Homo sapiens: one gene and its partners. The protein of the gene in region 1 purifies or fractionates together with the protein of each later gene. This does not show direct contact. Each region holds a gene or a part of one and is shown in the gene's direction. Other genes may lie near its edges.

Evidence for each region.
Region 2: the proteins of FGD5 (region 1) and CKMT1B purify together in Homo sapiens (affinity purification with mass spectrometry, with the first as the bait; one large-scale study listed by BioGRID). This does not show direct contact.
Region 3: the proteins of FGD5 (region 1) and LRRFIP2 purify together in Homo sapiens (affinity purification with mass spectrometry, with the first as the bait; one large-scale study listed by BioGRID). This does not show direct contact.
Region 4: the proteins of FGD5 (region 1) and CDC42BPB purify together in Homo sapiens (affinity purification with mass spectrometry, with the first as the bait; one large-scale study listed by BioGRID). This does not show direct contact.
Region 5: the proteins of FGD5 (region 1) and SEPTIN9 purify together in Homo sapiens (affinity purification with mass spectrometry, with the first as the bait; one large-scale study listed by BioGRID). This does not show direct contact.
Region 6: the proteins of FGD5 (region 1) and UACA purify together in Homo sapiens (affinity purification with mass spectrometry, with the first as the bait; one large-scale study listed by BioGRID). This does not show direct contact.
Region 7: the proteins of FGD5 (region 1) and LMO7 purify together in Homo sapiens (affinity purification with mass spectrometry, with the first as the bait; one large-scale study listed by BioGRID). This does not show direct contact.

The regions. Positions count from the first base shown.
Region 1 is NC_000003.12:14,891,962-14,895,461, forward strand, and holds part of FGD5 (FYVE, RhoGEF and PH domain-containing protein 5), read left to right. Parts: intron 1-3,500. UniProt on the Homo sapiens protein: Activates CDC42, a member of the Ras-like family of Rho- and Rac proteins, by exchanging bound GDP for free GTP. Mediates VEGF-induced CDC42 activation.
Region 2 is NC_000015.10:43,597,027-43,599,906, forward strand, and holds the end of CKMT1B (creatine kinase U-type, mitochondrial precursor), read left to right. Parts: intron 1-349; exon of another isoform or gene 350-1,166; coding exon 1,167-1,301; intron 1,302-1,800; coding exon 1,801-1,926; intron 1,927-2,130; coding exon 2,131-2,247; 3' UTR 2,248-2,380; downstream 2,381-2,880. Other genes in the region: STRC (stereocilin precursor), read right to left, coding at 2,646-2,734. UniProt on the Homo sapiens protein: Reversibly catalyzes the transfer of phosphate between ATP and various phosphogens (e.g. creatine phosphate).
Region 3 is NC_000003.12:37,059,583-37,063,082, reverse strand, and holds part of LRRFIP2 (leucine-rich repeat flightless-interacting protein 2), read left to right. Parts: intron 1-3,500. UniProt on the Homo sapiens protein: May function as activator of the canonical Wnt signaling pathway, in association with DVL3, upstream of CTNNB1/beta-catenin.
Region 4 is NC_000014.9:103,047,550-103,051,049, reverse strand, and holds part of CDC42BPB (serine/threonine-protein kinase MRCK beta), read left to right. Parts: intron 1-3,500. UniProt on the Homo sapiens protein: Serine/threonine-protein kinase which is an important downstream effector of CDC42 and plays a role in the regulation of cytoskeleton reorganization and cell migration. Regulates actin cytoskeletal reorganization via phosphorylation of PPP1R12C and MYL9/MLC2.
Region 5 is NC_000017.11:77,287,999-77,291,498, forward strand, and holds part of SEPTIN9 (septin-9), read left to right. Parts: exon of another isoform or gene 1-212; intron 213-3,500.
Region 6 is NC_000015.10:70,683,559-70,687,058, reverse strand, and holds part of UACA (uveal autoantigen with coiled-coil domains and ankyrin repeats), read left to right. Parts: intron 1-2,612; coding exon 2,613-2,794; intron 2,795-3,500. UniProt on the Homo sapiens protein: Regulates APAF1 expression and plays an important role in the regulation of stress-induced apoptosis. Promotes apoptosis by regulating three pathways, apoptosome up-regulation, LGALS3/galectin-3 down-regulation and NF-kappa-B inactivation.
Region 7 is NC_000013.11:75,856,330-75,860,366, forward strand, and holds the end of LMO7 (LIM domain only protein 7), read left to right. Parts: intron 1-176; coding exon 177-279; intron 280-1,591; coding exon 1,592-1,614; coding exon of another isoform or gene 1,615-1,684; 3' UTR 1,685-3,537; downstream 3,538-4,037.

The DNA.
Region 1 (3,500 bases):
CTGTTCACTGGATCTGTTTCCTTGTTTTTCTTTTTCTCTCCCCGTTTCCCTCTCTGTCCCATCCCACCTCCCTGTCCTCTTTTCTACCCCTCACTGTTCCCCTGCAGGGAGGGGTAGAAAAGCCTCTGGCCTTCACTTGGGGAGAGAAGGCCAGAAAGGCTTCCTGGAGGAAGGGCTGTCCATCCTCTCTCTCAGGCACTTTCTACTTTTCAATCCTTATATACAAAAGACCTTTTTTTTTTATTTTTTTATTTTTTTGAGACAGGGTCTAGCTCTATCACCCAGGCTGGAGTGTAGTGGCGCTATCACAACTCACTGCAGTCTCGACCTCCCAGATTCAAATGATCCTCCCACCTCAGTGTCCCAAGTAGCTGGAACTATAGGCGTGCACCACCATGCCTGGAGAATTTTTTATATTTTTGGCAGTCTCGCCATGTTGCCCAGGCTGGTCTCCATCCAACTCTTAGTCTCAAGCGATCCTCCCGTGTTGGCCTTTGAAGGTGCTGGGATTACAGATGTGAACCACTGCATCTGGCCTAAAGAAGATCTTTCCAGCAGTAGAAACTGTCCAGCAGGCCGGGCGCGGTGGCTCATGCCTGTAATCCTAGCACTTTGGGAGGCCGAGGCGGGCAGATCACCTGAGGTCAGGAGTTTGAGACCAGCCTTGCCAACATGGTGAAACTCTGTCTCTACTAAAAATACAAAAATTTAGCCAGGCGTGGCAGCAGGTGCCTGTAATCTCAGGTATTCAGAAGGCTGAGACAGGAGAATCACTTGGACCTGGGAGGCAGAGGTTGCCGTGAGCCAAGATCATGCCATTGCACTCCAGACTGGGCAACAAGAGCAAAAATCCATCTCAAAAAAAAAAAAGAAAGAAAGAAAGAAAGAAAACTGTCTAGTAGCGGGGTGAAATGTCTTGCCCCATAGTCCAGCTCCCCATCAGGGAGACAATCCAACAAGGTAGAGGAATCATCTTTCCTGAGTGTTGAGGGTGATTTGAACTTCTCCATTTGGGCAAGAGTGCATGATCTCTGACCCTGGGATTTTCCCAATATGCATTGCTCCACAGCTCAAGGTGGTTTCAGGATTCCCTGCCCCCACCCAAGCCGTGTATTTACAGCTGTAGAGCTAGGCCTCATGCAAGAGCAAATGTATTTGAAGATAAAATATTTTTCTTGTGAGAAAGAAATCTTTATAAATTTTTATTCTTTAATTTATTAAAAAATGCATCATAGATGTACATAGTTTCAGGGTATGTGATCATTTAATATGTTTATATAATTTGTAAAGAGCAAATCAGTGTACTTGGAATATTTATCACCTTAAATATTTGTCTTTATGCTGGAAACATTCAAATTATTCTCTTCTGGTTATTTTATTTATTTATTTATTATGTATTTATTTTTTAGAGGCAGAGTCTCACTCTGTCAACCAGGTTGGAGTGCAGTGACACGACCATAGCTCACTGCAGCCTGGAACTCCTGGGCTCAAGCAATCTTCCTGCTTCAGCAAATACCTGGAACCACAGTGATGCGCCAACAAGCCCAGCTAACCTTTTAAATTTTTTGTAAAGACGGAGTCTCAATATATTGCCCAGGCTAGTCTTGAACTCCTGACTTCAAGTAGTCCTCCGGCCTTGGCTTCCCAAAGTGCTGGGATTATAGGTGTGAGCCACCATGCCTGGCCTCTTCTAGCTATTTCAAAATGTATAGTCCATTATCGTAAACTATAGTTGCCGTACTGATTTATCTAATATTCGGTCTTATTTCTTTTTCTTTCTTTTCTTTTTTCTTTTTTTTTTTTTTTTTTTTGAGACAGAGTCTCTCTCTGTTGCCCAAGCTGGAGTGCAGTGGCCATGCAATCTCAGCTCATTGCAACCTCTGCCTCCCAGGTTCAAGCGATTCTCCTGCCTCAGCCTCTTGAGTAGCTTGGATTACAGGCACCGGCCATCAGACCTGGCTAATTTTTGTATTTTTAGTAGAGACAGGGTTTCACCATGTTGGTCTGGTTGGTCTCAAACTCCTGACCTCAGGTGATCTACCTGCCTCTGCCTCCCAAAGTGCTGGGATTACAGGTGTGAACCACTGTGGCCGGCCTTGTTTCTTTTATCACAATGTATATCTGCACCCATTAATCATCCTCTCTTCATTGCCACCCCCTTCCCACCTCTGGTAACCACCAGCCTACTTTCTATCTTCATGAGATCCACTTTTTTAGCTACCACATATGAGTGGGAACATGCGATATTTGTCTTTCTGTGCTTGGTTTATTCACTTAAGATAATGACTTTCAGTTCCATCCGTGTTGCTGCAGATGACAGGACTTCATCCTTTTTTATGGCTGAATACTATTCCATTGTGTATATATTGCCACATTTTCTTTATCCATTCATCTGTTGAGGTGTACTTAGGTTGAATCCATACTTTAGTTATTGTGAATTGTGCTGTGAAAAACAAGGTGGTGCAGCTATCTTTTTGATGTATTTGGTTTTCTTTCTTTTAAATATCTACTCAGTAGTGGAATTGCTAGAGCATTTGTTAGTTCTTTTTTTTTTTTTTTTTTTTCCTTTTTTGAGACAGGGTCTCATTCTGTCACCCAGGCTGGAGTGCAGTGACACAATCATGGCTCACTGCAGGATTGACCTCCTGGGCTCAAGCGATCCTCCTGCCTCAGCTTCTTGAGTAGCTGAGACCACAGGTGCAGGTCCAGCTAATTTTTTTTTTTTTTTTTTTAGATACGAGATCTTGCTATGTTGCCCAGACTGGTCTTGAACTCCTGGCCTCAAGTGATCCTCCCAGTAGTTCTATTTTTAGTGTTTTAGGAACCTTCATACTGTTCTCCATAGTGGCTGTACTATTTTACATTCTCACTGACAAGAGTTCCCCTTTCTCTGCATCTTTGCCAACATCTGTTATTGCGTGTCTTTTTGATAAAAGCCATTTTAACAGGGGTGAGATGATACCTTGTAGTTTTGGTTTGCATTTCTCTGATGATTATGATGTTGAGCTTTTTTCATATACCTATTGACCATTTGTATGTCTTCTTTAGAGAAATATCTGTTTAGATCTTTTGCCCATTTTTAAATCGGATTATTTGGGCTTTTTTGCTATTTGAGTTGTGTGAGCTCCTTATATATTTTGGTTGTTAATCCTTTGTCAGATGAATAGGTTGTACGTATTTTCTCTCATTCTGTGGGTTGTCTCTTTGTTGATTGTTTCCTTTGCTGTGCAGAAACTTTTTAGACTGATGTAGTCCCATTTGTCTATTTTCGCTTTGATTGGCTGTGCTGTTGAGGTCTTATGCAGAAAATCTTCCCCTAGTCCAATGTTCTAGGGTATTTCCCCAATGTTTTATTCTAGTTGCATCATAGTTGGAGGTCTTAGATTTAAGTCTTTAATCCATTTTGATTTGGCTTTTGTGTATAGTGATAGATAGAGGTCTAGTGTCATTCTTCTGCATTTAGTTATTTAGTTTTCCGAGCACCATTTATGGAAGAGACT
Region 2 (2,880 bases), on another chromosome or scaffold:
ACTGGGGAAGGTGGAGGATAGAATGGTTCAAGTTCTAGAATATGTGGCTCTAGATGAGAGGTTGAACTGAATCATCAATCCTACATGGATTGGGTCTCCGTATTCAAGTCTACATTAGAAATCCCCATAAACTCAATTCAATTCTTACTGTATGTTCTCAAACATACAGTTCTATTTTAGGTTTGCAAAGAAAAAGAGCTCCTCTTTTAGATTCTGAGAAGTTTCTACTATTTTTGGCAAGTAATAGATAACATATTCTGACTATGAGTGGGTAGGGAAGTACCTTTAAATTATATGCCTCAGTTTCCTCATCTGTAAAATTGGGATAATGAGATTTTCTACATTTTAGGTTGTTGTGGGGATTAAGTGAAATACAGGTAAAGTACTTGGTCCACAGTAAGTGCTTAATAAGTGTTAAAGTGTTAGCTGCAATATTATTCTGGATGGAAGAGTTTCCCCCCATGTTCAGCATGTAAGATATCCCCTATGGCATGGTTCCTTCTGAACTATAAAGAGGATCCCTTTACTCATGTTGGGTTGTGGTCTTTGTGACCATCATTCTGCTAGATCCCTTGTCTCTTGAACTCTAATAGTCATCTTCATGACTACATGGTTAAGTGAAGCCAAACGCCTTCCCCCCGCCCCCTATTCCTATGAATCTGGCTTTTCTGCTCTGTTTTCATCTTTCTCTGCATTCACACAGGTGCTCCGTTCACAGCTAACAGAATGTTATCTTACCTCTTCCTGGCAAAGCTTACACCTTCATCTTCTGTCTGAAGGGACCCTTCTAAGCTCTAGGCTCATTAGCAAAGCAAAGATAATCGATGCATGCAGACCTCATTGAATAATCAGTCATCTCTCAGTTCAGTTTACCACCTCTGTTCATTTCCCTAGATCATCCTTAATACACCACTCCTTCGAGTTTTCTTCTTCCACATAAGATATTTTTTCACAATCTCATTATTATGCACATCATAATTTTGCATCATGCATGCATGAAAACAATAACAAACCTTTTTCATTTAAAAAAAGACCAATGTCATTCATTCACAGCCAAGTTTCTGTTCTAGACATATTTCTAGTGTTCTTGTGGGTCTAGCTAAGGGAGGGTCCAGGGTTAATGAAATATCCCTGATTTTTCGTTAACAAAACCTTTGTGGACTCAGGTGGAGAGACTTATCCAAGAACGTGGCTGGGAGTTCATGTGGAATGAGCGTTTGGGATACATCTTGACCTGTCCATCTAACCTGGGCACTGGACTTCGGGCAGGAGTGCACATCAAACTGCCCCTGCTAAGCAAAGTAAAGGAGTTGTGGGGTTACAGAGGGGTGTGAGTAAGGAAGGGTGGGTTGTGGATGGGGAGGGAGTGGACCCTTTGGAAAGGAGCCAAACATGTTGTGGCTAAAGGGTCAGAGGACAGGCCAGGCACAGTGGCTCATGCCTCTAATCCCAACACTTGGGAGGCCAAGGCAGGCAGATTACTTGAGCCCAGGAGTTCAAGACCAGCCTGGGCAACCTGGTGAAACCCCATCTCTACTACAAATACAAAAGTTAGCTGGGTGTAGTGGAGGCTGAGGTGAGAGGATCACTTAAGCCTGGGAAGTCGAGGCTTCAGTGAGCTGTGATCACTCCAGCCTGGGTGACAGAGAGAGACCCTGTCTAAAAAAAATTAAAAAAGAAAAAAGAAAAAAGGAAAAAAAAAGTTCAGGAGACAGAGCTCTGAGCAGGTTCAGGGCTCTTTCAGGTAGGACTAGTCTCTGCCTCTATTGACCCTGCTCCCAATCCCTATCTCCTCTCTAGGATAGCCGCTTCCCAAAGATCCTGGAGAACCTAAGACTCCAAAAACGTGGTACTGGAGGAGTGGACACTGCTGCTACAGGCGGTGTCTTTGATATTTCTAATTTGGACCGACTAGGCAAATCAGAGGTGAGATCCTAAGGGATTAGGACAAGGAGAGGTATAGGTCTGCGAGGGCCGAAATATGGCAGTGAGTGAGCCTCCGGGATGTAAGATAATCTGAAATGAAATTCAGGTTGAGTGGGGAGGCAATTGGAAATGAGCAGGCAAGTCAGTCAGTGATAAAGAAAAACTCAGACTGTAGGAAGCAGATCAAAGATTAGTGTCCCTTAGGTGGAGCTGGTGCAACTGGTCATCGATGGAGTAAACTATTTGATTGATTGTGAACGGCGTCTGGAGAGAGGCCAGGATATCCGCATCCCCACACCTGTCATCCACACCAAGCATTAACTCCCCATCGCCAGCTGATGACTCAAGATTCCCAGGAGTTCTGCTCATTCTAATGATGGCCCATTCTACTTGCTCTGGACCTGCCCCCGCATCCCCTGCCTCCATCCTAGTAAAGACTCCTTGCTATGCTGCAGCTGTCTGTGTTACTTCTAATGGTGGGGTGAGGAGGGAGCAGCCTTCAGGAAATGAAAAGAGGCAGTGGGATTATTTATGATGGAAAGAGACTCCAGATATGGCAACCCAGGAACACTGATTCTCAGGTGGGTGGAAAGCATTAACATTTTACCCATATTCCTCATCAGCTTCTGAAAATAATCAGGATGCACTTCTGTTTGCACTTTATTCATTATGACTTAAGATTTCTCTCCCCACAATCTCCTTCTACTGTAGAGACAGGCTCATAGCAGGTGGCCAAGGAAGCTGATAGTCAATACCAGGGACCAGGAAGGTCGTGACCAGTCCTGGAGGCCCCAGGCTGTACTTCGACCTATAATAGACAGGGAATGGGAGTAATATCACAACTCAGCTCTCCAGGAGCATTGATACTTGGAAATTAGCGCTCTGCCTGTAGACTCCTTCACTCCAGGGATCTCCCTGGGTGCACTCTAAGAGCCAGACAGCACCAAATTAGGG
Region 3 (3,500 bases), about 22 Mb from region 1:
CCAAGAGTAGATTAATCCCACTCAGTATTTTCAGATGCATCTGGTGTTATTTCAGTTCCAGTTTGTTGAATCTTGGTGCATCTGACTTGTCCCTTTCTAAACTAGTGACTTGCCCTCTCGGTACATAGATGTGGTCACCCTTCATTGGCATCTGGAGATTTTCTTTGCATGTGATTTAGGTTGGGTTCCCTTTTTCCGGTGTCTCATGCCTTTCTCCTTATTTATTCTCTTATTTTGGTACATCTTCCAGTAGCTTCCTGAGAAGAGGGTTTGTGGATTGTTAATTTTTCATGACCTTGCAGGCCTGAAGATGTCTTCATTCTACCCTCTCACTTGATTAAAATAGTTTGGCTGGGTAGAGAATCCTGAGTTGCCATGGTTCTCCTTAAGATTTTTTAAAAGGACATTTCTTCATTGTGCTGTGACTTCGAGCATGGCTGTTGAGTTTTCATGAACATTTTGAGTTCTGATCTTTTCTGATTTGTGATCTATTTTTCTCCTCTTTGTGGAAGCTTGTATCCTATTCTCTTTCTCTCTAGCATTCTGGTGTAATTTGAAGATAGTCATGTGATTTGAAGTTTTCATGTGTGATGCTGGGCCCCTGTCAATTCTAGGAGCTCCCATCCTTTAGTTCTGGGAAAATTTCTTGAATGATTTTGTTACTGATTTTTTTCCCCTCCCATATGCTGTGTTCTCTATTTTGGAACTCCTATTCAGTCATTCAACAAATGTTGAGTGAGATTCTACTATTTAACATGCACTATTCTAGGCACTGGGATATTTCAGTGAATAAATTAGTTTAGAAAAAAAAAATTCCTGCCTGAGAGGCATTCTAGTAGGAAGACATCAGACAATATTATATGATATGTTAGAAGGTTTGTGTGAATGCATTTATTATATGTGTTTCTCTGGCTACTTACAGCAGCATAGGGGCAGGCATGGAGTGGGTAGAGAGCTAGATTTTACTAGGACAGTATTAATGGGGCAGGAGAGGTGAGGGAGTATGTAAGAAAATGATTATAATGATGGACCTTGAAATTAAACTGGATGAAGAGGATTCGGGAGATATTCAGGAACACATCAAGGTATAGTAGAAAGAAGATGTAATCTGTAGATTAGTGGTACCAGTGTGGTTGAAGGGTTGTTGGAATTCGGGTCTAGAGAGAATGACCTGGAAAGATGAGGAATAGTGGTTAGAGAGAGGATACATGGAACTAAATTGTGTAGGGATTACAATTGTCTAATGATGAGATCTGGTATATGACTGTGGGAGTGAGTAGCTGAGGGCAAGAAGGGATAGATAGCAAGATCCTTGGAAGGGAGGTGGGTTAGTCCATTTTTTGCTTCGCTATAAAGGAATACCTGAGGCTGGGTAATTTATAAAGAAAAGATGTTTGACTGGGCACAGCAGCTCATGCCTGTAATCCCAGCACTTTTGGAGGCTGAGGCAGGTGGTTGAGGTCAGGAGTTGAGACCAGCCTGGCCAACATGGTGAAACCCCAACTCTACTAAAAATATACAAAAATTAGCCGGGCATGGTGGTGGGTGCCTGTAGTCCCAGCTACTTGGGAAGCTGAGGCAGGAGGGAGGTGGAGGCTGCAGTGAGCCAAGATTGCGCCACTGCACTCCAGCCTTGGGTGGCAGAGTGAGACTTTGTCTCAAAAAAAAAAAAAAGGAAAAAAGAAAAAGAAAAAGAAAAGAGGTTTAAACTGGCTCATGGTTCTGCAAGCTGTAGAGGAAGTATGTTGTCAGCATCTGCTCAGCTTCTGAGCTCAGTTTCCTGAGGCCTCAGGCCAGGCTGGTCTTGAACTCCTGACCTTAGGTGATCCACCCACCTCGTCCTCCCAAAGTGCTGGGATTACAGGCATGAGCCACCGCGCCCAGCCAGCCTCAGGAAACTTCTCATCACGGCGGAAGGTGAAGGGGCAGCAGGCACGTCATATCTCGAGCGGAAGCCAGAGAGAGTGGGGAGGTAACATACACTCTTAAACAACCAGATCTTGTGTGAACTACCAGAGCGAGAACTCACTCATCACCAAGGGAATGGTGCAAAGCTATTCATGAGGGATCTGCCCCATGACCCAGATACCTCCTGCCAGGCCCCACCTTCAGCACTGGGGAATACATTTCAACATGAGATTTGGAGGGGACAGACATCCAAACCGTAAGAGGAGATATACCAGAAATTGAGAGATCATTTGTAAGGGAGATCCTCTACTTAGATGTACATTGAAATTGCCAAAAATTAAGACAGGAATAGTCTAGAGGGAGTGCAAGTTGGGAGCTATTTAATAAATGGTGATGAAGGAATGGGATTTTGGCAATGATAAGTAGTTAGTGTATATAATTTGAAGAGACGAGATTAAGACCTGGGACTTTTAGGGAAGATGGAGGGAAAATACCAGCAAGGAAAGCAAGAGGACACCTATTCCATTTCTAGATTCAGTGGTAGGAAGCTGTGGAAGTACAAAAAAAAAAAGGGCCGGGCATGGTGGCTCATGTCTGTAATCCCAGCACTTGGGGAGGCCAAGGTGGGTGGATGACTTGAGGTCAGGAGTTCAAGACCAGCCTGGCCAACATGACGAAACCCCATCTACTAAAAATACAAAAATTGGACGTGGTGGCATGCACCTGGAATCCCAGCTACTCGGGGGGCTGAGGCAGGAAAATCGCTTGAACCCGGGAGGCGGAGGTTGCAGTGAGCTGAGATCATGCCACTGCACTCCAGTCTGGGCCACAGAGCGAGACCCTGTCTCAAACAAACAAACAAAACAAAACAAAACAAAACAAAAACAGTGTTTGAGAGAGCTGCAGAAGCAGCAGGAGAGGGTTATCAGAGCACGAGGGTAAAGGGGGGATGCTCAGAAAAGACTGAGGACAGAGGGTGTTTGCTGATGATGGACTGATAATTCTAGAGGGCCCAGTGGAAAAGTTTCAGGCATTGGGAAAGGTTAGGAGATGAAGGTTAGTGGTCGTACAGACCCTTGTGAGGAAGACTGCAGAGGAAGGATATGACCCTTTGTGAGATGCACATAAATAGGAATGATGGAGATACTGAGATTTGTCCTGGTTCCCTCAAGGCAGCTAATGATGGTGACCCTGTGTGTTGAAAGGGCAGAGGTGCCTGGGAAGTATAGAGTTAGTCCCAATATAGAGCTTACCCTTTTCCCATTGGGGAGTGGCAAACTTAATCTTAGTGCAGAGGCCTCCCTTTGACCCCTGTTGGTGGAGTTAAGGACAGCTGGGGAAGCCATCTCTATGTATCCAATTATTATTATTATTATTTTTTTTTTTTTTGAGACAGAGTCTCGCTCTGTCACCAGGCTGGAGTGCAGTGATGTGATCTCCACTCACTGCAACCTCCACCTACCAGGTTCAAATGATTCTCCTGCCTCAGCCTCTGGAGTAGTTGGGACTACATGCGCGTGCCACCATGCCCCACTAATTTTTGTAGTTTTAGTAGAGATGGGGTTTCACCATGTTGGCCAGGATGGCCTCGA
Region 4 (3,500 bases), on another chromosome or scaffold:
TAGGTAACAGTGGCAACAAAATTGTTTTTTGATTAAAACTGCAAAAAATCGATGTGTAATAGAGAACTTCTTTGGATTTTTGTTTTTCTTAGGAATTAGAAATTCAAACATAAATTTGAATGGAATGATATAATTTCATTCAAATTCGGTCCTTGGATTGGAGAGTCTTTGGAGAACATTTGGGACCTATTGTAAGGTGATTCCCAGTGTTAATTTAGGTGATGATTTCCCTGACCTCCAAAATTGCAGAGTCATAGGTTGGAAAACTGTTAAGAATTTTTTTTTTTCCCCCCAAGACAGGGTCTTGCTCTGTTACCCAGGCTGGAGTGTAGTGGCTCTGTCATGTCTCACTGCAGCCTTGACTTCCCAGGCTCAGGCAGTCCTCCAGCCTCAGCCTCCTGAATAGCTGGGACAATAGGCATACACCGCTACACCTGGCTAATTTTTTATTTTTTGTGGAAACGAGGTCTTGCTGTGTTGCCCAGGGTGGAATTGAACTCAGGCTCAAGTAATCCTCCTACCTTGGCCTCCCAAATGTTGGGATTATAAGTGTGAGCCACTGCGCTCCGCTATGTTAGGAATTTGGGGAGGTCATGTTAACCTGCCCTCCAGCCCACTCCCCACTCAGGTTGGGTAAACCAGGTTCTGAGCATTTTCCCTAACCGTTTCTGGGCAAACAGCCCTCTAACCAGCATTTCTGTCCTTCACAGGACTGCGGTCAGCCTCAGGCCTCCTTGCAGGTGCCTGCTTTGAAATATCTTTATTTTATTTTAGCCTTTTCTTTCTATTCTCATTGTCAGGGACCTAGGTAAAGCTCTCAGGTCCTCAGGCCTAAATGAATGCCTTTCCCACTTGAAGTTTTAAATACCTCTGCCAGATCAGTCTCAAACTCTCTTCATCACTCTGCCTTTCCAAAACTACAATGCCTTCATATTCTGTTGCCTTTAAAATAAAAAGTCTGATATCCACAATTCAGTATTAGAATTTGAAATTGACCCCAAAAGACGCATCTAATCTTAGCTTTAGAAGTTAAGGTTATGGCCGGGTGTGTTGGCTCATGCCTGTAATCCCAGCACTTTGGGAGGCCGAGACGGGTGGATCACAAGGTCAGTAGTTCAAGACCAGCCTGGCCAACATGGTGAAACCCCGTCTCTACTAAAAATACAAAAATTAGCCGGGCTGGTGGCGCACGCCTGTAATCCCAGCTACTCAGGAGGCTGAGGCAGGAGAATCACTTAAACCCGGGAGGCGGAGGTTGCAGTGAGCCGAGATTGTGCCATTGCTCTCCAGCGTGGGCAACAAGAGCAAAATTTTGTCTCAAATAAATAAAAAAAGTTAAGGTTAACAGCACTTCCCACCATGCCCCATGGGGTGATTTTCTTTTAACATCATTTAACTTTTATCAATGTAATGCATTTACTTAGTTTTGGAAACTAAGCGGTACTACTGGGTTGTAGTGCAAGACAGCAGTCCCTCTACCAGTCGCTTGCTCCGCGCTCCAACTTCCCACAGACTACCACTTTTAACTGCTCTGTTTCTACTTATCATTTTAGTTAGGATCACATTTAGCTGCCAGTAATGGAGAACAAAGTGACAGTGACTTAAATAAAATCAGGTTGATTTCTCTCACGTGAAGTTGACGTGTCAGCAGTCAGTGCTAGTTGGACAGCCTTGCTCCAAGAGGCCTCCGGGGCTGTGGCCTTTTCCCACCCTCAGGCCACCATCTGAGACGGTGGCCATCCCACCCTCCTTCAGCCAAGCAGGCCGGGGGTGGGATGTTACTATAGAAGATCCTTGGATATTGGTGGGTGCTTAGCAATGCCTGCCTTAAATTTCATATTTCTGTGTAGCATGCTGGTACTGCTAATTTCTGATTTTACCATTTTAGACATTGCTGACTTCTGCTGTAGAAGAGGCCTTAGAACTGTTCTACATTGTCCCTCCACTGCCTGAAACACATTCACCCCTTGCTCTTTTTCTGTGTTCCAAATATGTTTATATAATTTTGTTTAAATTGGTAATTCAGTGTCTGCATTCTTATTGTTAGGTAACTGTCTTCACAGCTAAGCCATGTAAGATACAGTTTACTAAGGGAAATAGTTTTGTGTTATTGGAGTGAATTTTCTTTATTTTCTTTTCTTATAATAATCCCATGGAGTAAATTTTTTTTTTTTTGGAGATGGAGGCTCATTCTGTTGCCCAGGCTGGAGTGCAGTGGCATGATCTTGGCTCACTGCAGCCTCCGCCTCCCGGGTTCAAGTGATTCTCCTGCCTCAGTCTCCCGAGTAGCTGGGATTACAGGCACCCACCATCACACCTGGCTAATTTTTTTTTTTTTTTTTGAGACGGAGTCTTGCTCTGTCGCCCAGGCTGGAGTGCAGTGGCCCGATCTCGGCTCACTGCAGGCTCCGCCTCCTGGGTTCACACCATTCTGTCTGAGCCTCTCGAGTAGCTGGGACTACAGGCGCCCGCCACCATGCCTGGCTAATTTTTTTTTTTTTTTTTTTTTTTTTTTTTGTATTTTTAGTAGAAACAGGGTTTCACCGTGTTAGCCAGGATGGTCTCCATCTCCTGACCTCGTGATCCACCTGCCTCATCCTCCCAGAGTGCTGGGATTATAGGCGTGAGCTACCGCGCCCAGCCATGCCTGGCTAATTTTTGTGTTTTTAGTACAGATGGGGTTTCACCATGTTGGCCAGGCTGATCTTGAACTCCTGACCTCAAGCAGTCCGCCCGCATTGGCCTCCTGAAGTGCTAGGATTACAGGAGTGAGCCACCGCTCCCGGCCGAATTTTCTTTAGCTTGGTTTTCAATGTACAGTCATGAATTTAGTGCCAGGCTTTTAACTAGAACTCCTCCATTAAACACCTCACATAATCTTATCACCTTCATCCCTTCCAGGCCTGCCACTTTTCTGTTTCAGCCTGGGCCGGGTGTCCTGCGGGCCTGCTACTGAGCAGTCCTCCTTGGAGTGCTTTTCATTCCTTGCAGGGATTCTTCGTGTCTCTTTCCTCTGTTGAATTCCCCTTTCTGGATTCTGTGTCTTTCATCTTTTGGTGGAGTGAATCTTCTAGTAGCTTCCTGAGAAAGAATTCATCGGAGGTGAATTTTTTGAACCAGGTCTGTCTGAAAATGCTTTTTTTTTTGGACACAGAGTCTTGCTCTGTTGCCCAGGCTGGAGTGCAGTGGTGCAATCTTGGCTCACTGCAACCTCCACCTCCCGGTTCAAGCAGTTCTCCTGCCTCAGCCTCCCGAGTAGCTGGGACTGCAGGTGCACACCACCACACCCAGCTAATTTTTTGTATTTTAGTAGAGACAGGGTTTCACCATGTTGCCCAGACTGGTCTCGAACTCCTGAGCTCAGGGAATCTGCCCGCTTCGGCCTCCCCAAGTGTCAGGATTACAGGCATGAGTCACCATGCCTGGCTGAAAATGCCCTTTCTTCCCTCACATTTGAATGGCACTTTGCCTGCGTACAGAATTCTAGGTTGGAAGTCATT
Region 5 (3,500 bases), on another chromosome or scaffold:
GGGTGAGAGGAACCCTGGATGGCCACTCTGCCCTGAGTGTGTGGGTCCCCAGAAGTGCTGGGTTAGGGGGCACGGAGGGCCAGAAAGTCCCCTTTGGAGCGCTGGACTCTCTCGCTGACTCCTACCCCACCCCGGCCTGGGGTTTCAGAGAAGGGGTCCAGGCAGGAGTGTCATCTTTTCTCAATGGGGATGTGGCTTCAGTCTCTGTCCAGGTGGGTGCATTGCTCTCTTTCCGGCTCCTCCCAGGCTGCTTAAATGACCTGTGACGAGGCCTGCGCCATGGCCGGGGCCCTCTGCTTTTCCCAGCGCTGCACCTGGGAACCAGGGGTTGGGCCCCGGAAGCCGAGGATGTCCCTGAATGCCATGCCTGGGCACCTGTCCTGGCCAGGCGAGGCGTGTTGGGGCAGCGGCTGAGATGGGAGCAGCAGCATTGCCTGCCAGGTTTGAGATGGGCCCCGGGTGAGTGTGGTTACCAGGAAGGGCTGGGCAGAGCAGGCGGGTGGGCCGCCCCTGGGGCCTTGTTCCGCAGATCAACCTGATCCGCACCCTGGGGCCGGGGCTTCCTTTCACAGCCTTCCCATGAACTATGGCTCCTGTTTCCATCCCAAATCAGATCCCAGAAGAGGAATAATGTCCATGTAACCCAAGCCAGTTGGAAGTGGGTTACATCCAACCCCTGTCATCTTCCAGCTTGTTAAGGACTTGACTAACTCAACCCAGAGGGATTTGGAGGGTTGTCTGCAAAACCCACTAATAACAGGGAACTTTAGCTCTGTAGCCACAGGGTCTACAGAGGTGTCGGGCTGTCGGGTTATTGCTGGGAGGTGAGCCGGTGGCGTAGACACCATGGAGGCACCGGTAGTGGAAGAGCTGCAAGTGCACACAGAGGCCGGCACCGAGGGGCGGGGAGGAGGAGGTGGTGGATTTCTCGCCAGTGTTGGCATCATGTTGCCTCCAGCATCAGAGACCCAAGGTGTGGCTGACCTTGGCTGGGGCGATGAGTCATTGGATAGCAGAGCCTTCCTGGTAGCTGGGGGTTAACGCTTTAACTGCCGGGACTTTGTATTATGCCGCTTCTTTTTTTTGTTTTGTTTGGTTTGGTTTGGTTTGGTTTTTGAGACGGAGTCTCACTCTGTCACCCAGGCTGGAGTGTGGTGGCTCAATCTTGGCTCACTGCAACCTCTGCCTCCTGGGTTCAAGCAATTCTCCTGCCTCAGCCTCCTGAATAGCTGGGATTACAGGCACGCGCCACCATGCCTGGCTAATTTTTGTATTTTTAGTAGAGATGGGGTTTCGCCATGTTGGCCGGGTTGGTTTCAAACTCCTGACCTCAGGTGATCCACCTGCCCCGGCCTCCCAAAGTGCTGGGATTACAGGCATGAGCTACCGCGCCCAGCTTGCATTTATGCTTTTTTTTTTTTTTTTTTGAGATGGAGTTTCGCTCTTGTTGCCCAGGCTGGAGTGCAAAGGCGCGATCTCAGCTCACTGCAACCTCCACCTCCCGGGTTCAAGCGATTCTCTTGCCTCAGCCTCCCAAGTAGCTGGGATTACAGGCCTGCGTCACCATGCCCGGCTAATTTTGTATTTTTAGTACAGACGGGGTGTCCCCATGTTGGTCAGGCTGGTCTCGAACTCCCGACCTCAGGTGATCCGCCCGCCTTGGCCTCCCAAAGTGCTGGGATTACAGGCGTGAGCCACCGCACCCGGCCTATGCTTTTTATTATTATTATTTAATTTTTTAAGGAAAGCAATCTAAACTGTACACTGTATCTTTTCTTTCTCTTTTGCTTTTTGTTGTCAGTTTTCTGTATTACTTATTGCCAAACAACATGAACAGGAAATTGAAAGGAAAACTTCAACAATCATTGGCTGTAGCATTTCTTCTGTGTTCCATTCAGTGCTTGTCTCCTCAGGAACATGACATAGGGTTTGATTTAATTATGAAAGGCGTATATTTTCAGAGTTTTATACTCCCCATAGAATGAATGTTGAATTCTGTTCTTTTCACTTGAAATTAGATCTCAGGCATGGATTTCATGATTATCACTATAATGGCTCTTCAGAGTGGACATTGCATCTTGTAGGGAACCACCCTCTCCCCAGCTGCTGGTGTGGACGCTCCTCCTTGATGGTGTGGGTCTGGGCCCCTGAAGGGTGGTGTCCTGAGTAAAGATGTTACAGTAGCCATGCTTATAGCTTTGGGCCTGGGGCTAGGTGGAGACTGGCTTCAACCCTAGAGCTTGCTGTCTTAAAATAAATTCTTTTTTTTTTTTTTTTGAGATGGAGTCTCGCTCTGTTGCCCAGGCTGGAGTGCAGTGGCGCGATCTCCGCTCACTGCAAGCTCCGCCTCCCGGGTTCACACCATTCTCCTGCCTCAGCATCCCGCATAGCTGGGACTACAGGCACCCGCCCCCACGCCCGGCTAATTTTTTGTATTTTTTTAGTAGAGGCGGGGTTTCACCATGTTAGCCAGGATGGTCTCAATCTTCTGACCTCGTGATCCACTCGCCTCAGCCTCCAAAGTGCTGGGATAAAATAAATTCTTAGGGCCGGGAGCGGTGGCTCACACCTGTAATCCCAGCACTTTGAGAGGCCGAGGCGGGCAGATCACAAGGTCAGAAGATCGAGACCATGGTGAAACCCCGTCTCTACTAAAAATACAAAAAATTAGCTGGGTGCAGTGGCGGGCGCCTGTAGTCCCAGCTACTCGGGAGGCTGAGGCAGGAGAATGGCATGAACCCGGAAGGCGGAGCTTGCAGTGAGCCGAGATTGCGCCAGTGCACTCCAGCCTGGGCGACAGAGTGAGACCCTGTCTCATAAATAAATAAATAAATAAATAAATAAATAAATTCTTATACCCACTTGCATTATTTATTATTATTATTATTAAACAGGGTCTTGCTGTGTTGCCCAGGTTGGAGTGCAGTGGCGTGATCATGACCTCCCAGTCTCGACCTCCCAGTTTCAATTGGTCCTCCCTTCTCAGCCTCCTGAGTAGCTGGGACTACAGGTGTGCGCTGCATGCCTGGCTAATTTTTTTTTTTTTTTTTTTTTTGAGACAGAGTCTTACTCTGTTGCCCAGGCTGGAGTGCCGTGGTGCAATCTCGGCTCACTGCAACCCCCGGCTCCTGGATTAAAGCAATTCTCCTGCCTCAGCCTCCTGAATAGCTGCGATTACAGGCATGTGCCGCCACACCTGGCTAATTTTTGTATTTTTAGTAGGGACGGGGTTTCACCATGTTGGTCAGGCTGGTCTCAAACTCCTGACCTCGTGATCCACCTGCCTTGGCCTCCCAAAGTGCTGGGATTACAGGTGGGAGCCACCGCGCCTGGCATGCCTGGCTAATTTTTAAAAAATTTTTGTAGCAGCCGGGCGCGGTGGCTCATGCCTGTAATCCTAGCACTTTGGGAGGCCAAGGAGGTCGGGAGTTCGAGACCAGCCTGACCAACATGGAGAAACCCTGTCTCTACTAAAACTACAAAATTAGCTGGGCATGGTG
Region 6 (3,500 bases), on another chromosome or scaffold:
GGGTACAGTGCCATCTCCTACTCTGAACCTGTCCATTTCTGTACTGCAGAGGTCCCTTGCTTTATTTTTGCTTCTGTATTTGATACTATTTTAGTTGGTGTGCTCTAATAATTTCTATCCAGAATTCTCCCTATCTCTGTCTGTAGGTCTAATGTATCATGGTGCTTGTTGTATTACAATTCTGAAGTTTATGGTCACAAAGTATCTGAAACACACCCCTTCCATTTAATTCAAGTATTACAATAAATTAAACTAAAATTTCTGGGATTTTTGTAGTTACTAGTAAAAATTTTGGTTTCTTTTGACTTAATTTTATTCTTCCAAACATGTATTCTATTGTTTGTAGTTTATTAGAAGTATAAAAGTATAAAAAATAGTCTTTAGTTGTCAGATTTTATAGCTGTAATTGTTTTCTTTATGCATCTCAAAGGAGGAAATTCTGTACCTAATGCTAAATGACGAGTTAATGGGTGCAGCACACCAGCATGATGCATGTATACATATGTAACTAACCTGCACATTGTGCACATGTACCCTAAAACTTAAAGTATAAAAAAAAAAAAAAAAAAAAAAAGAACCCTGGCTTCTACAACTCCCCTTATCTTAACTCAAGCATTTCTTTATATTGACTTCAATTCTCCAGACAAAGCTTAATGCTTTCAATCAATTCCCAATCAGGAAATCTTTGACTTGGAAGCCCCTACTTTGAAATGTCCTGACATTCTGAGCTAAACCAATGTATACCTTATATGTATTGATTTATACCTTTGCCTGTAACTTTTGTCTCCCTAAAATGTATAAAACCAAGTTGTAACTCAACCACCTCCGGCACCCATTCTCAGGACCTCCTGAGGCTGTGTCATGGGCCATGGTTGCTAACATTTGGCTCAGAATAAACCTCTTTAAATATTAAAAAAAAAAAAAAAAGATGTGATTAAGAAGTGGCTTTTTAATATTACTTTGTTTTTGTGGATACTATCATCTGATTCCAAGCATGATGAAGAAAATTGGATTTTAAAATTAAATTTTACGGCTGGGCGCGGATCACTTGAGGTCAGGAGTTCAAGACCAGCCTGGCCAACATGGCGAAACCACATCTCTACCAAAAATACAAAAATTAGCTAGGTGTGGTGGTGCGTGCCTGTAATCCCAGCTACTCAGGAGGCTGAGGCAGGAGAATTCCTTGAACCCAGGAGGCGGAGGTTGCAGTGAGCTGAGATCATGCCACTGCGCTGGCAACAGAGCGAGACTCTTGTCTCAAAAAAAAAAAAGTTAAATTTAATTTTAGGATCACAGAGGGATAATCTGGTTGATCTACATACAGTGCTTTATATTTTTTATAGCTCTCACATTTTTCAAAGCACTTTATCTATGTTTTTTCATTGGGCATTCACAAAAAGCCAATGAAGCAGGGCAGTGTATATTGTATAGACTAAATAGCATATGGTTTTCAACATAATTTATAACCTTAGTTTCTAATACTCTATATTCATTTCTTTTTTTCCTGTTTTATATGTAGCATTTTTTAAATAACAAAAACTTTGTTAATGCCTGTTTTGTACAGAATTTCTTATCAGCAACTACAGGGGAGTTGGGGGACAAGGCTTGAATATGAGAAACACAGCATACATAGCAGAGAAAAGGCAAGAGTCAGTTTCCTTAAGAGATCCAATATTCACAATTGAAGACAGAGTTAGATATAGGATATGTCATTTCATTTCATTACGTGTTGGTTAGCCCCATCCTAAAAAATAGAGGATTAGACAAAATAATTTCTAGGGTCCTTCTAGATTTTCATGACAATTATTTTGTTGCATGATTAGTATTTGCTGATGTACTGTGAGATGTTTGAGTGCCAGTGGTTCTATTGCAATAGAATAAAGCAATGATCCATGTTGCATGGCGTTAGTTGTAGTCTGAAGATGTGAAGGTCTTCAGGTAGAAGAATCAAGGTTCTTCTAAGCAGGAACATCAGGAATGGAATCTGATACTTCTCTTGGAGGAGAAGGGATTCTTAGGGGAGGTTTGCATGATGTGGTTCAGTTCATGAAGGGACTGAAAAAGTTGGGTTTTGATCACATGGGGTGACAGTATCAGTTGTGGAAAATTTTTGTGGTGATTATTTACGTGTAGGACATTGAAGAAGTGGAATAAATGAGGTTGGTTTGGTAGTAGAAGTAATTAAAGGATATAAGGATATAGAAGACAAAGCAAATGTTTTTATAAATGCAATGAATATAAAGTAAAATCTATATCTGTAACAGGCATGACTTCTTAAAGTAGTGTCTATTCTTCAAGAAGGGAGCATGTCTTAGTGTTCAAGTAAGTGTTCAAGTAGTGTTGAACACTTACTTGAACTTAGTGTTCAAGTAGAACTACAGTTTATAAGAAGCAAAACATTCCTTACTGATAAACAGTATTGGTTCATCTCCCTCTACAACATGGATTTGCTTACTTACATTATAGTCACTTGCTTTGAGGCAGTGTGTGTTGCATATATAATCTAGTTTATCCAGTGAACACTAAGACAGTGTTCAACAATAGGGCAGAATATTTCTGCAATATTTCCTTGGAGTTTTCTCAGTCTTTTGCTCTTCCATTTTTCCATTTAGAACTGCCCTCATGCTAGGTTGCGAATATGGTTGCAGAGATGCAGTAGAAGTCTTAATTAAAAATGGTGCTGATATAAGCTTGCTGGATGCGCTTGGCCATGATAGTTCTTACTATGCAAGAATTGGTGACAATCTGGACATTCTAACCTTGTTGAAGACTGCATCGGAAAATACCAACAAAGGTATCAGCAGTTTTCTGTAACTAGAAAAGTCCACATTAACAAAGAGCCACTTTTTAAAAGACTTAGGTAGTAGAACTACAGTTTATAAGAAGCAAAACATTCCTTACTGATAAACAGTATTGGTTCATCTCCCTCTACAACATGGATTTGCTTACTTACATTATGGTCACTTGCTTTGAGGCAGTGTGTGTTGCATATATAATCTAGTTTATCCAGTGAACACTAAGACACTGGAATAACTTCAGAACTGAGAAGGAAGAGTCAAGTGTTTTACTAAGTTTTTTTTTTTTTTTGATGAAGAGGGGTGAACCTCCCAACTTTTTATACTTACGAAGTTTTAAAGAATCATTGTTTAAACATGTATGTAAAATAGTCAGCTGATATTTACCAAATGCCTATGCCATGATTTTTTATGTTTTTTTTAAAAAAAACAGGAACATACAGAAAAGCACAATGAATAGTCACTCATTACCACTGAGAAGCCTCTGTTAACATTTTGAGAAATATCCTTCTAGTCTTTTCCCATTAAATTGAATTCACTGTAAATCTGAATTGTAGCTTACTTTTTTATGTAACCTATTTTGAAGGCCTTTCCCTCAAAAATAGTTTTTCTATAGTATGATTTTTGTTGGTGTATGAGATTCCATTTATTTAAGTTTCATTTAATAAAGCAGTTTTCTACATGTAGTGTTTAAGCTATTTATAA
Region 7 (4,037 bases), on another chromosome or scaffold:
TATCTGGCGGTCTTGATTTGAATCTACTAATCATCTTTCGGCCTTTTTTTTTCTTTGCTGAAATGTATCTAAGAGCTTAGAAGTAGCATTCTGCTCATTTCCCCCCCACCCCCAGGAGTGCCCCAAGCTTTCTTGAGCTGACTGATTGTAGATGTTCTTTTTTTTTTGTTCCCCAGTGTGTTGCCTGTGAGTGTGACCTCGGAGGCTCTTCCTCAGGAGCTGAAGTCAGGATCAGAAACCACCAACTGTACTGCAACGACTGCTATCTCAGATTCAAATGTAAGAGAGCAAATCAGAGAGAAAATTTCTTGCCTTTTAAGGAGGCCACGGGTTCCCATGCATTTCCCTGAACCTGCAGCGAGCTCCCCTCCAAGTTCACTGCCATAGGATTCCAGGTTTCAAGAATTGTAGTGTGTTCCCTTCAAAGAGTGTGTATAGTGAATGGGTCACTGCTCAGGGTTCCAGCTACACAGGAGTGGGTTGTGGGGCCAAGGAATGGAGAGGAACAGTGTCCAAAAGTCAGGATGGTGTCTTGTGTTATCTGCCCAGAGTCCGCAGAGACCTTTAATGACTCAAGAATACAAACAAACCAAAACACTTAAATGAATCTTCTATGTAGGATTTGTTTCTTGACTAAAGATTGGTCCCTCATCAACTTCTATTATTTAACAATGGGCTTTGATTATGTGATTTAGAATATGACCAACTTTAAAAAATATTGTTCCATGTAATACAAAATAAGTCAGTTTATGCTTTATGTTAATATATGTCAATATATAATTTTAAAAGGAAAGTATTAACTATGGTGTTTCAGTGTCATTTTTGGAAAAAATGAGTTTTTCAAAAAACTTCAAATGCTACTTTGCATCTAAGCATGTGTTTGTGTGTTATAAAAGGTAGGCTAGCATAACTAGGTTGTGTGTTGTGTATAGCTACAGCAAGACAAGTATTACTGCTGTTTTATATTTTAAACCTTGATGCTGGTAACATGTGTTTCTTCCTTATTGTGAAAGGGTGTTACAAGTGGTATCAGCAAAATCATTTGCTTTTGAACTCTGAGGTATTTATATGGCCCCTATGTGAAGAGTGCTTTGGAAATGGTTTAAGCCCAGTCAACTCTCTTTTATCTGTCGGTGGGTTCTGAGCCTTCCTGCTGCAGCTGTCCAGTCCTTTCCTGGATGCTGACACTGAGGTTGGAGAAAGTCAAGGCTGGGCATGTACTGGTGGGGGGTGTGTGTATGTGTGTGTGTTTTTCTCTCTCTCATCAAATTCCAAAGCCAAATAGAAATGATTTCTGGAATCACCATTGTAAAATTGCCCATGCCTTTTCTCTCCTCCAAAACAAATAATAGAGAGTTGAGTGTAATTTATTTCTATTGTGAGCAGTTCATTTTTACTCCATTTTTACAAATAAAGAATTCCAGAGACGAGACACTGAGACTTGCCTAGCTTTATCCTAAGAGTGAGTGACAGGTTACTCTTTCTACCTCATTGGGCCACTTTCTGAGTGATGACTGCTATGTATCCCAGATGGCAATATTCACGTTTCTGAATCTAAGCACTTTTCTTTCTTTTCTCCTTGCCCGATCAGCTGGACGGCCAACCGCCATGTGATGTAAGCCTCCATACGAAAGCACTGTTGCAGATAGAAGAAGAGGTGGTTGCTGCTCATGTAGATCTATAAATATGTGTTGTATGTCTTTTTTGCTTTTTTTTTAAAAAAAAGAATAACTTTTTTTGCCTCTTTAGATTACATAGAAGCATTGTAGTCTTGGTAGAACCAGTATTTTTGTTGTTTATTTATAAGGTAATTGTGTGTGGGGAAAAGTGCAGTATTTACCTGTTGAATTCAGCATCTTGAGAGCACAAGGGAAAAAATAAGAACCTACGAATATTTTTGAGGCAGATAATGATCTAGTTTGACTTTCTAGTTAGTGGTGTTTTGAAGAGGGTATTTTATTGTTTTTTAAAAAAAGGTTCTTAAACATTATTTGAAATAGTTAATATAAATACATAATTGCATTTGCTCTGTTTATTGTAATGTATTCTAAATTAATGCAGAACCATATGGAAAATTTCATTAAAATCTATCCCCAAATGTGCTTTCTGTATCCTTCCTTCTACCTATTATTCTGATTTTTAAAAATGCAGTTAATGTACCATTTATTTGCTTGATGAAGGGAGCTCTATTTTCTTTACCAGAAATGTTGCTAAGTAATTCCCAATAGAAAGCTGCTTATTTTCATTAATGAAAAATAACCATGGTTTGTATACTAGAAGTCTTCTTCAGAAACTGGTGAGCCTTTCTGTTCAATTGCATTTGTAAATAAACTTGCTGATGCATTTAACGAGTGGGTCGTCTTTTTCTTAGGTGTATGTGTCTGACCTCAGGCCTTTTAGCCATATTTCAGTATGTGGCCTTTTTTGATGTTATGTTTTATCCAGTAGCTTTACTAAGGTATAATTGATGTAATAAACTGCATATATTTAAAGTGTATACTTTGACAAATTTTGACATGGTGTATACCTTCGAAACTATGCCACAGTCTGGATGTGTTTACTGAAACATTTTAATAAGGAAGTTTATTTTTGATAAAGTTATGTTTTTGGATACAATATATTTGTATGGTGAGAGTGATGAATTGTTGGATCATTTGAATAAAATCTTTTACTAACCCCATGATAAAAGGAGAAGACAACAGTGAGCTTAGAATATCTATAAAGCAAAAAATGTAGTCTCTTGTTTAAAAAATCTGGAGCGGGAATGCAAGGATACAAAACTTTAGCATGCTTTGAGCAAAAATTTAAACTTACTGGAATCTTTTATAATAATGTAAGTGGAATGGAGGATTCTAGGAACTGAGAACTGTATTGGAATAGGTTCAAAATATGTAAGAAATGCTAATGTGGGAGATAAAAATTTTATTTAGTACTTATTCTGATTATTATTAAAGTAATAATGTGTTCCTTGAGGATAACTTGTCAAATGCCCCAAAGCATAAAGAATATAATTCTGAATCCCAAATTCCAAAGACAAGAACTCTGTGTTTGAATTCATTCTGCATATAATTATTTATAAGTATAGATTGTGAATTTTTCCATGTTCTTAAAATTATTTTTATCTTTTTTCATGGTTGCATAGTGCTCCATTGTTTGGCCTTGGTAATATTTAGTTGATAATTCCATTACTGTGTATTTTTCACTTGTTTCTAAGATCAAACATTTTAATATGTGCATGTTATATATAAATATGTAAATTCTGTGATACTCTATGATCATCTCTTTCTTTATATTATTTTCATAGACATGAAATAGTTGCTCAGAGATTATGCATTTTAAGACACTCATAGTATATATTGCCAAAGTGGTTTCCAGAAAGGCACTGCTGGCTTCGACTCCTATAAGCAGCACGTGGGCTTGTTCATCTCACTGCATGTTTATGAAGATACAGTTCTTTTGCCTTGTTCTCTGCCTGATGTGTATGCAGAGGCAGCCCTCAATATGCAGTGGTTGAATAAATGAATGAAGAAACCACTATCAATTTCTGCCTTGTTAATTCTGTTTTCCACTGTCCCCAGAGGATGCCTTAATTCTGCCATCATTTTCGTTTCCTTATCCAAAATCCTTTCTGACCATTGCTCCTTTTCATCTAAGCCTTTTGTCTTTTCATCTGCTCTTGTTTTCTTATGATTTTTTCCCCCATTTCTCACATTATCTTACTTAGTGATAACATTTCTGTTAGTACAAATTATAAGTACAGTTTTCAGAGCTATTTTCTTCTAGGATACCGGCTCTACATTTGTATAAGCCCTTGGGTATTTGTTACTTCACCTAGGAACAAGGGAAGAGTCCAGCCCTTCAACAAATTTTTTAATTCATACTTTATGCTCCAGGCACTGCTTTTGGCACCATGGGTAGAACAGTGAAGAAATACAGTCTTGGCTCTGATTGGTCTTATTTTTCTGGTTGAGGGAGGTGATAAAACAATACATGAAAAAATAACATGCAGGTGGCGATGAGAGCAACAAAGAACAAAT